Homo sapiens: one gene and its partner. The protein of the gene in region 1 interacts with the protein of each later gene in a pairwise test. Each region holds a gene or a part of one and is shown on either strand. Other genes may lie near its edges.

Region 1 (3,760 bases):
TTTGTGCCAGAGAAGAGACCTTATATCTCTGATGCTTAGAAATTTCATGCCAAAAGAACAATTTAAATCTAATATACTTGAATTACATATTTGCCTAAATAAATAATTTACATTTTTGTATATTACCTATAGAATACCATAATTTCTAATAGGACTGTTCAAATTAGCATAGATGATTTATCTAAGAAATATTTCCTTTAAAAACTCACACACAAATTCATTTTATTTTATTTTATTTTACTTTCCTATTTTACTTTAAGTTCTGGGATACGTGTGCAGAACATGCAGATTTGTTGCATTGGTAAACGTGTGCCATGGTGGTTTGCTGCACCTATCAACCCATCATCTAGGTTTTAAGCCCCACATGCATTAGCTATTTGCCCTGATGCTCTCCCTCCCTTCCCCACCACCAGGCCCTGGTGGGCGTTGTTTCCTTCCCTGAATCAGACACAAATTTAAAACACAATTTCTAATTAGTGGGATCAAGCTAAAGACCATGCGTTTATAAATCTCTTAAGTAGTTTTTCTATCTTTAAAGTACACAAAGAGTTTCCTGGACATGTTCTTAAAATTCCGGTTCCAGGTGTACACCACAAGATTCTGACTCAGTAAGTTTGGAAAAGTAGAATAAGAATCTGCATTTCAACAGCTACTAGCTGATGCTGATCATGATGGTCGCATGTGGCACCCTCTGAGGAACAATGGACTGGGCTGTATAACTTATCTGAACTTTAGAAAAGAGTTTTTAATACTCAGTTCTTAGCACATCAAATTCTCCAACCGGTAGAGAGTAGGTGAATGCTTATACATGTTTGCCTATGAATTAAATTAAAATTCTGTTTTTCTCTTTCTGTCTAATATAGTTATTTCAACAAATGGCCTCTATAAATATATATGAACCTCAGAAAACTCCAGGGAAGTAAATTCAAATTTCTAAACATAAGAAATCAGTTTTATGTGAGAGATATGTGACCAAGCACCTAGAATCTTTTGACATTAAATATGAGAATGTTTTTATCATATGATATCCAAAAGATGATTGAATTTTGGCAAATGTTTACATTCACTTTATTACTTAAAACACTCAAAGTCAATGTAAAGGTAAAAATACAAGATAAATAATGATTTGTAGGAAAACTTTTGAAGTATAGAATGACTCCAATTTTATTATGCCAATTATCACTATTTACTAGAGAATGTGTAAAATTTTGATAACATGGTAAGTATTATTTTTGACATAGCGTTGTTCCATCTTGGACATATATTTGTTGAAAAGTAGTAGATGGTATTCTACAGAAACATCTTTATCACTGCAATCATTTCTATGCCTGGTTTCCTCCAGCGTGCTTTTCCGTTGTCTGACTCACTCAGGGCTAGACTAACACTGGGATTAGCATGTGATGGGTCCATTCGCTTTCCGGTTGCTTTGTCTTCACAATGATCTATTGTAAAATCACCTGGTTAAGTTTATTTTTAGAATTTGTAGAGACAGATTTTGGGCATTACTTTCCGTCTCAATCATATGATCTCCTAATTGATGCTATTTAGAAAAACAAAAGGGAGATTTCAACGTGTTTAAATACATCAGCCATATAGAAAAGGACATCTCTTGAGACTTCACTTCAGCTTCACTGACTTCTTGACTCTCCTCTTGAGTAAAAGGTAATATGTTCAAGTACAATCTAATATTATATATTAGCATAAGCTTTTGTTTGCTAAAATCAATAGTAACCCACTTATGAAAATGTATATTATCTATTTAAATCTAGTTTACTTGAATTGCGTATTTGCCTAAATAAATAATTTACATTTTTGTATATTACCTATAGAATACCATAATTTCTAATAGGACTGTTCAAATTAGCATAGATGATTTATCTAATAAATATTTCCTTTAAAAACTCACACACAAATTCATTTTATTTTATTTTATTTTACTTTCTTATTTTACTTTAAGTTCTGGGATACGTGTGCAGGACATGCAGATTTGTTGCATTGGTAAACGTGTGCCATGGTGGTTTGCTGCACCTATCAACCCATCATCTAGGTTTTAAGCCCCGCATGCATTAGTTATTTGCCCTGATGCTGTAATGTGTACAATTTTGTACTCGGGATCTGAAGATGACTTCCAGATCTCAATTCCTATGAATTAACACCAGCAATCATCACGCAAAGTAAATTATGTGGAATATGGCAATGTATTACATCCTCTCTGATGGTGGGACCTCAATTAACTCTTTTTATTTCCTTGTCTAGATACCTAATATCTACTTTCTTAATTATTAATTCTACATTTAACTTAAACCAGGAGTTCAAATTTTACAAGAAGATACTGATAAATTCTCTCTTGGTAAATATATTATTATAAAGGTTTATTTTTAAAAATTTACTTTCTTCTTAATAGGAAACTATTTTATTACTTTTTTATTGACCTTTCCATCATTTAAAACAGTGCTGTTATAATGCAAAGCATATACTGTATAAGAGTTAGTCATCTCAATCTTACTAATTTGTTTAACTCATTTTCATTCATTTGTGTTATGGCAGAAAAGAAAGAGTTTACTGTTCCAAATTTTTATTGATGTGTTACTTGGGAAATATGTTTTTCATAACCATTAATTGTATATTGATTATCTATGTTCGTTTATCTATCAGTTTATGTGTTAGTAAAAGAAGACCAATTTCTTAGAACCCTTTTTTATTTTGTACTTGCAACAGAATTGACAATCATTAACAACAGTAAAATTCTCATGCCTTTTGTATCATAAAAAGAGTTGTAGTAGGATTTATATATTAGGTAATAGAAAAACTTCAAAATACATAATTTTTATAGTTAGTCCTATAGTAGAAGTTTCCATTTAATTGAGTGAAGCAAAATAAACGAATAAATAATATGGTAAATGCCATAAATCTTGGGTTCTGCTTTTCATGATAGAGATGTAGGGCTGTTTAAGAGCAGGACATTTTATTATAATTAGATGAAAAATGTTACTGTAATGTTATATCACAAATGACAGGAAAGAGAGATTAGAAAAAAATTTTTAAATTACCTATTAATGAATTACTTTATAACTGCAATTAACAGCCAAAAATGCCATGTAACTGTAAGTCTTGTGGTAATTGTATTTTCCAATGGAAATGCTTTTATTTACGTTTGTAATTTAGAAATAAGTAACCTGCTATACTTTTTTATATCTGCAAAGGAACTGGATACACTTGCATATACATAATTATAAAAGCATATCAGAGTCCCAGATGAGGCTAACTTTGTTGAATAATATTATTTGAAATATTGAATAATCTTCACCAGTTCAACTTCTCAAAGTAGATACAATCATTTTCCCTGTGAATTCTCTTCATTTTATTTTTCGCTACCCAATATCACTAATGTTCTAATCTCAGGGTTACACCATCTGTGGATTCTGTAATAGAACTCTGGCTCATAGTCACTGACTTTATTATAAAGCCAGTCTCCATTGCTTTTCATTCTACTTTCCTAATATCTCTTTACACTGTACCTTAATTAGCATTCTTAATGTCATTATATAAGTCCCCTGTAGTGTCACAACAACCTAAGTGGTCATCTTTTCTCCAGTTTTGTCCTCCCTATGTGTTGAACTGTTTGCATTTTTAACATGCTTTCCTCTCTGTTTTATTTCTTTATAGGCTCCCAACACCACCCTTTACTCATTCCATATAATCCAACTCAAGCTTGCCTTTCTTCATTACCTTCTTACTCCCATCCTCTTGGTCTGTTTAA
Region 2 (3,660 bases), 430 kb from region 1:
TCTTTGCAACATCCTCAGAGACCATCTGGAAAGGGAAAGACCGAGATCATGGAATGTGAGGCCCTCAATCCTGCTTCAGTCAGAGCAGGTCCTTAATTATGTGGATTGCATATTCAATCTCCAGGGAAAGATCTGTTTGAACAATATGACCTGTTCTATTTTATATGAGAAAACAACTACCCCTGTAATGGAAAGGATCTCCTCAGAGATTCCTGGAGTCAGTGTTACCGATTCTGAAAACCTATGCCCTTTTAAGAGAGATTTATGGAAAAATACCAAAGTCATGTGAGTATCAGAAGCCATTATGTTAGCTATTGGTTGTTCTCAGTTGTGAATTAAAATTTCCTGGACAATTTAATTTTCTAAACAAATAATACTTTCTTGTATTGATGGATGTTGTGGAGAATGTCCAGATCTTAGAGGAACATATTTGAAACACACTGCAACAGACCAGCAGTGGAGGTTTTAGTCTGTCCTATGTCTGGCATTGAATAATTGAATGACTTTGGGCAAGTCACTTAATATGCCTGGATCTCAGTTTATTCATTTATGAAATGATTCGGATTAAATTAAATTCCAGATCCAAAATCTAATTCTATGACCTCTTTGCTTTGAAATAGTTATGTGGTTCATTCCCTCAATCACATGAGCCTCACGATGGTCCCTGTTTCATTCACCTCTGAAAGCCCAGTACCTAGAAGCTATTTTTGAGGTTGGATATATTAGTCTCTGAGGAAGTTATCTTAGTTAAACAACTCAGCTAGTCTCTCAGAAGTTGTCACTTCATCTGCACTAAACTTTGTGTCCAAAGAAAGCTTTATAACTTGCGACTGGAATGATTTACCCATTTGGTCATCTAAAAAGGGCTTCTGTGAACATCATTAGGAAGAAAACGTAACCTATCCTTGTTTGGGATGTTCTCATTTATCCTGTTATATTTCTTTTCTCCAATTTAATATAACTGATCACTAAAAAATGTAGTATGAGATTGAATACAGGGAAGAGGGATATAAAAGGCATGAAGTATGTTTACAGATAAGAAACTGAAACAGTGATGGTACTCTAACTCAAATAATGTCAGCAATGGCTAAAGGAAATAAAAATATCTTGCAAAATGATGACCCACATGGCATAGAAGTTATTTTCAAATTTTGAAAGACTTCTGGATCTTCTGTAAATCTGCCAAAACAAAATTAGGACCAAAGGATGGAAATCTTCATGAAGAAAATTCTACTCAGTTAAGAATGAAAATCCCAAAAAACAAACCTACATTCAGTGTCAAGAACTCTCTACCAGGCGGCCTTAGGAATTACAGTAGTGAGTTCCTAATCAGAAGAGGTTAGATGCATAGACTAGAAAGCCTTTCAGCAGGTGTATTGATAAAAGATCAAGTATCAGATGTACAGTTGGACTGGATCAGTGTTCTTTTCAGATGTAAACACCTTTCAGAAATCATGAAAACCATTGGTGCTCTATCCAGACAAAATGCATAAACATGCAAATTTTCTCTAAAAATCAGATGACTCATGAACCCCCGAATCATGAATTCTATAATTCTAATTTTTTAAACAATAAAGTTAAAAGGTAATGACCAAAGTTGTTTCTCCAATTTATAAAGGCTAAAAACTGTTTCCTGAAATATGGAGAACATGAAGCCGGGGTGGGATATTTTGTTTGTTGGGGCTTTGTTGTTGTTTGGCTGTTTCGTATTTTGATGATGGTAGATATGAGGGGTGTAATCTAGAAAGGGCTCCTGGATCTCAGTTGAATGTCTTTGACTAAAGTTTTGTGAACAGGCTGAGCAAGCAGGAAGCTTTTGTGATGGGACCTCAGGCAGTAACTTGACCATTTTCCACCAGAGGAAGAAGAGAGGAACTGTAAGCACAAAAGTTCGTATCCAGCTAAGCATTCAAGCTAGAACCCACAGGAATATATTCATCCCAGCTATCTAGAGAGTAGACATTTGACAAAAGAAAACTCTCTAGTAGCAATTCTTTCTTGAAACTTGGTGAAATTAGGAAGATAATCACTTGACTCAATAATGTACTCTGGTTTCTAATCCCAGCATTCCACAAATACCGCTCATCTCATGGTCAGCAGTGATCACCTGATTGATAAATGGATACTTTTTTCATTTCTTACATTTTCTTTCTTTTCTGCAGTTCAGTGAAGGTCGAGAAAGGGATCATGAACTACGTCACAGAAGGCATCATCACCAATCACCCAAATCTCACTTTGAATTACCACATTATCCTGGACTGCTAGCTCACCAGAAGCCGTTCATTAGAAAGTCCTATAAATGTCTGCACAAACGCTGTAGGCCTAAGCTTCCACCTTCACCTAATAACCCCCCCAAATTCCCAAATCCTCACCAGCCACCTAAACATCCAGATAAAAATAGCAGTGTGGTCAACCCTACCTTAGTGGCTACAACCCAAATTCCATCTGTGACTTTCCCATCAGCTTCCACCAAAATTACTACCCTTCCAAATGTGACTTTTCTTCCCCAGAATGCCACCACCATATCTTCAAGAGAAAATGTTAACACAAGCTCTTCTGTAGCTACATTAGCACCAGTGAATTCCCCAGCTCCACAAGACACCACAGCTGCCCCACCCACACCTTCTGCAACTACACCAGCTCCACCATCTTCCTCAGCTCCACCAGAGACCACAGCTGCCCCACCCACACCTTCTGCAACTACACAAGCTCCACCATCTTCCTCAGCTCCACCAGAGACCACAGCTGCCCCACCCACACCTCCTGCAACTACACCAGCTCCACCATCTTCCTCAGCTCCACCAGAGACCACAGCTGCCCCACCCACACCTTCTGCAACTACACCAGCTCCACTATCTTCCTCAGCTCCACCAGAGACCACAGCTGTCCCACCCACACCTTCTGCAACTACCCTAGACCCATCATCCGCCTCAGCTCCACCAGAGACCACAGCTGCCCCACCCACACCTTCTGCAACTACACCAGCTCCACCGTCTTCCCCAGCTCCACAAGAGACCACAGCTGCCCCAATTACCACACCTAATTCTTCCCCAACTACTCTTGCACCTGACACTTCTGAAACTTCAGCTGCACCCACACACCAGACTACTACTTCGGTCACTACTCAAACTACTACTACTAAACAACCAACTTCAGCTCCTGGCCAAAATAAAATTTCTCGATTTCTTTTATATATGAAGAATCTACTAAACAGAATTATTGACGACATGGTGGAGCAATAGTATATTGTATGTTGTAAAGTGTTCTGTCATTTACAAGATGTGATTCATGAGTGCAGAACTACCACCTTTCTTTTAGCACCAATCCCAACATGAAATTATATTACTCAGATTTAAAGCACTATCATTAATCTTTCAATCTAATTATTCACCACCACAAGACCTATTAACAAGACAAAATGCCTCTATCCCACAAGCCAGATGCAGGTCTGGGGTTCAAAATAACTCTTTGGATCCTACAGAGATAGCCTACTGAGGGCAAAGAAAGTCCTTAGATAAAGAGAGAATATTGTATGGGCCATCAACCATTTACTTTTCCCTGAATGTTAGAAACTACAAAACCACTACCTTGTACCCCCATCAAAATCCCACCTGAACCATCTAATCCTATAAACATAAAGGGGTAAAATTGGAACTCTCC

Evidence for each region. Proteins that work in one complex are often made in the same cells at the same time.
Region 2: the proteins of HTN1 (region 1) and MUC7 interact in a two-hybrid assay, tested with the Homo sapiens proteins (one study listed by IntAct).

What each region holds. Positions count from the first base shown.
Region 1 is NC_000004.12:70,048,834-70,052,593, forward strand, and holds the start of HTN1 (histatin-1 isoform 1 precursor), read left to right. Parts: upstream 1-1,604; 5' UTR 1,605-1,662; intron 1,663-3,760.
Region 2 is NC_000004.12:70,478,637-70,482,296, forward strand, and holds part of MUC7 (mucin-7 precursor), read left to right. Parts: intron 1-2,162; coding exon 2,163-3,242; 3' UTR 3,243-3,660. UniProt on the Homo sapiens protein: May function in a protective capacity by promoting the clearance of bacteria in the oral cavity and aiding in mastication, speech, and swallowing. Binds P.aeruginosa pili.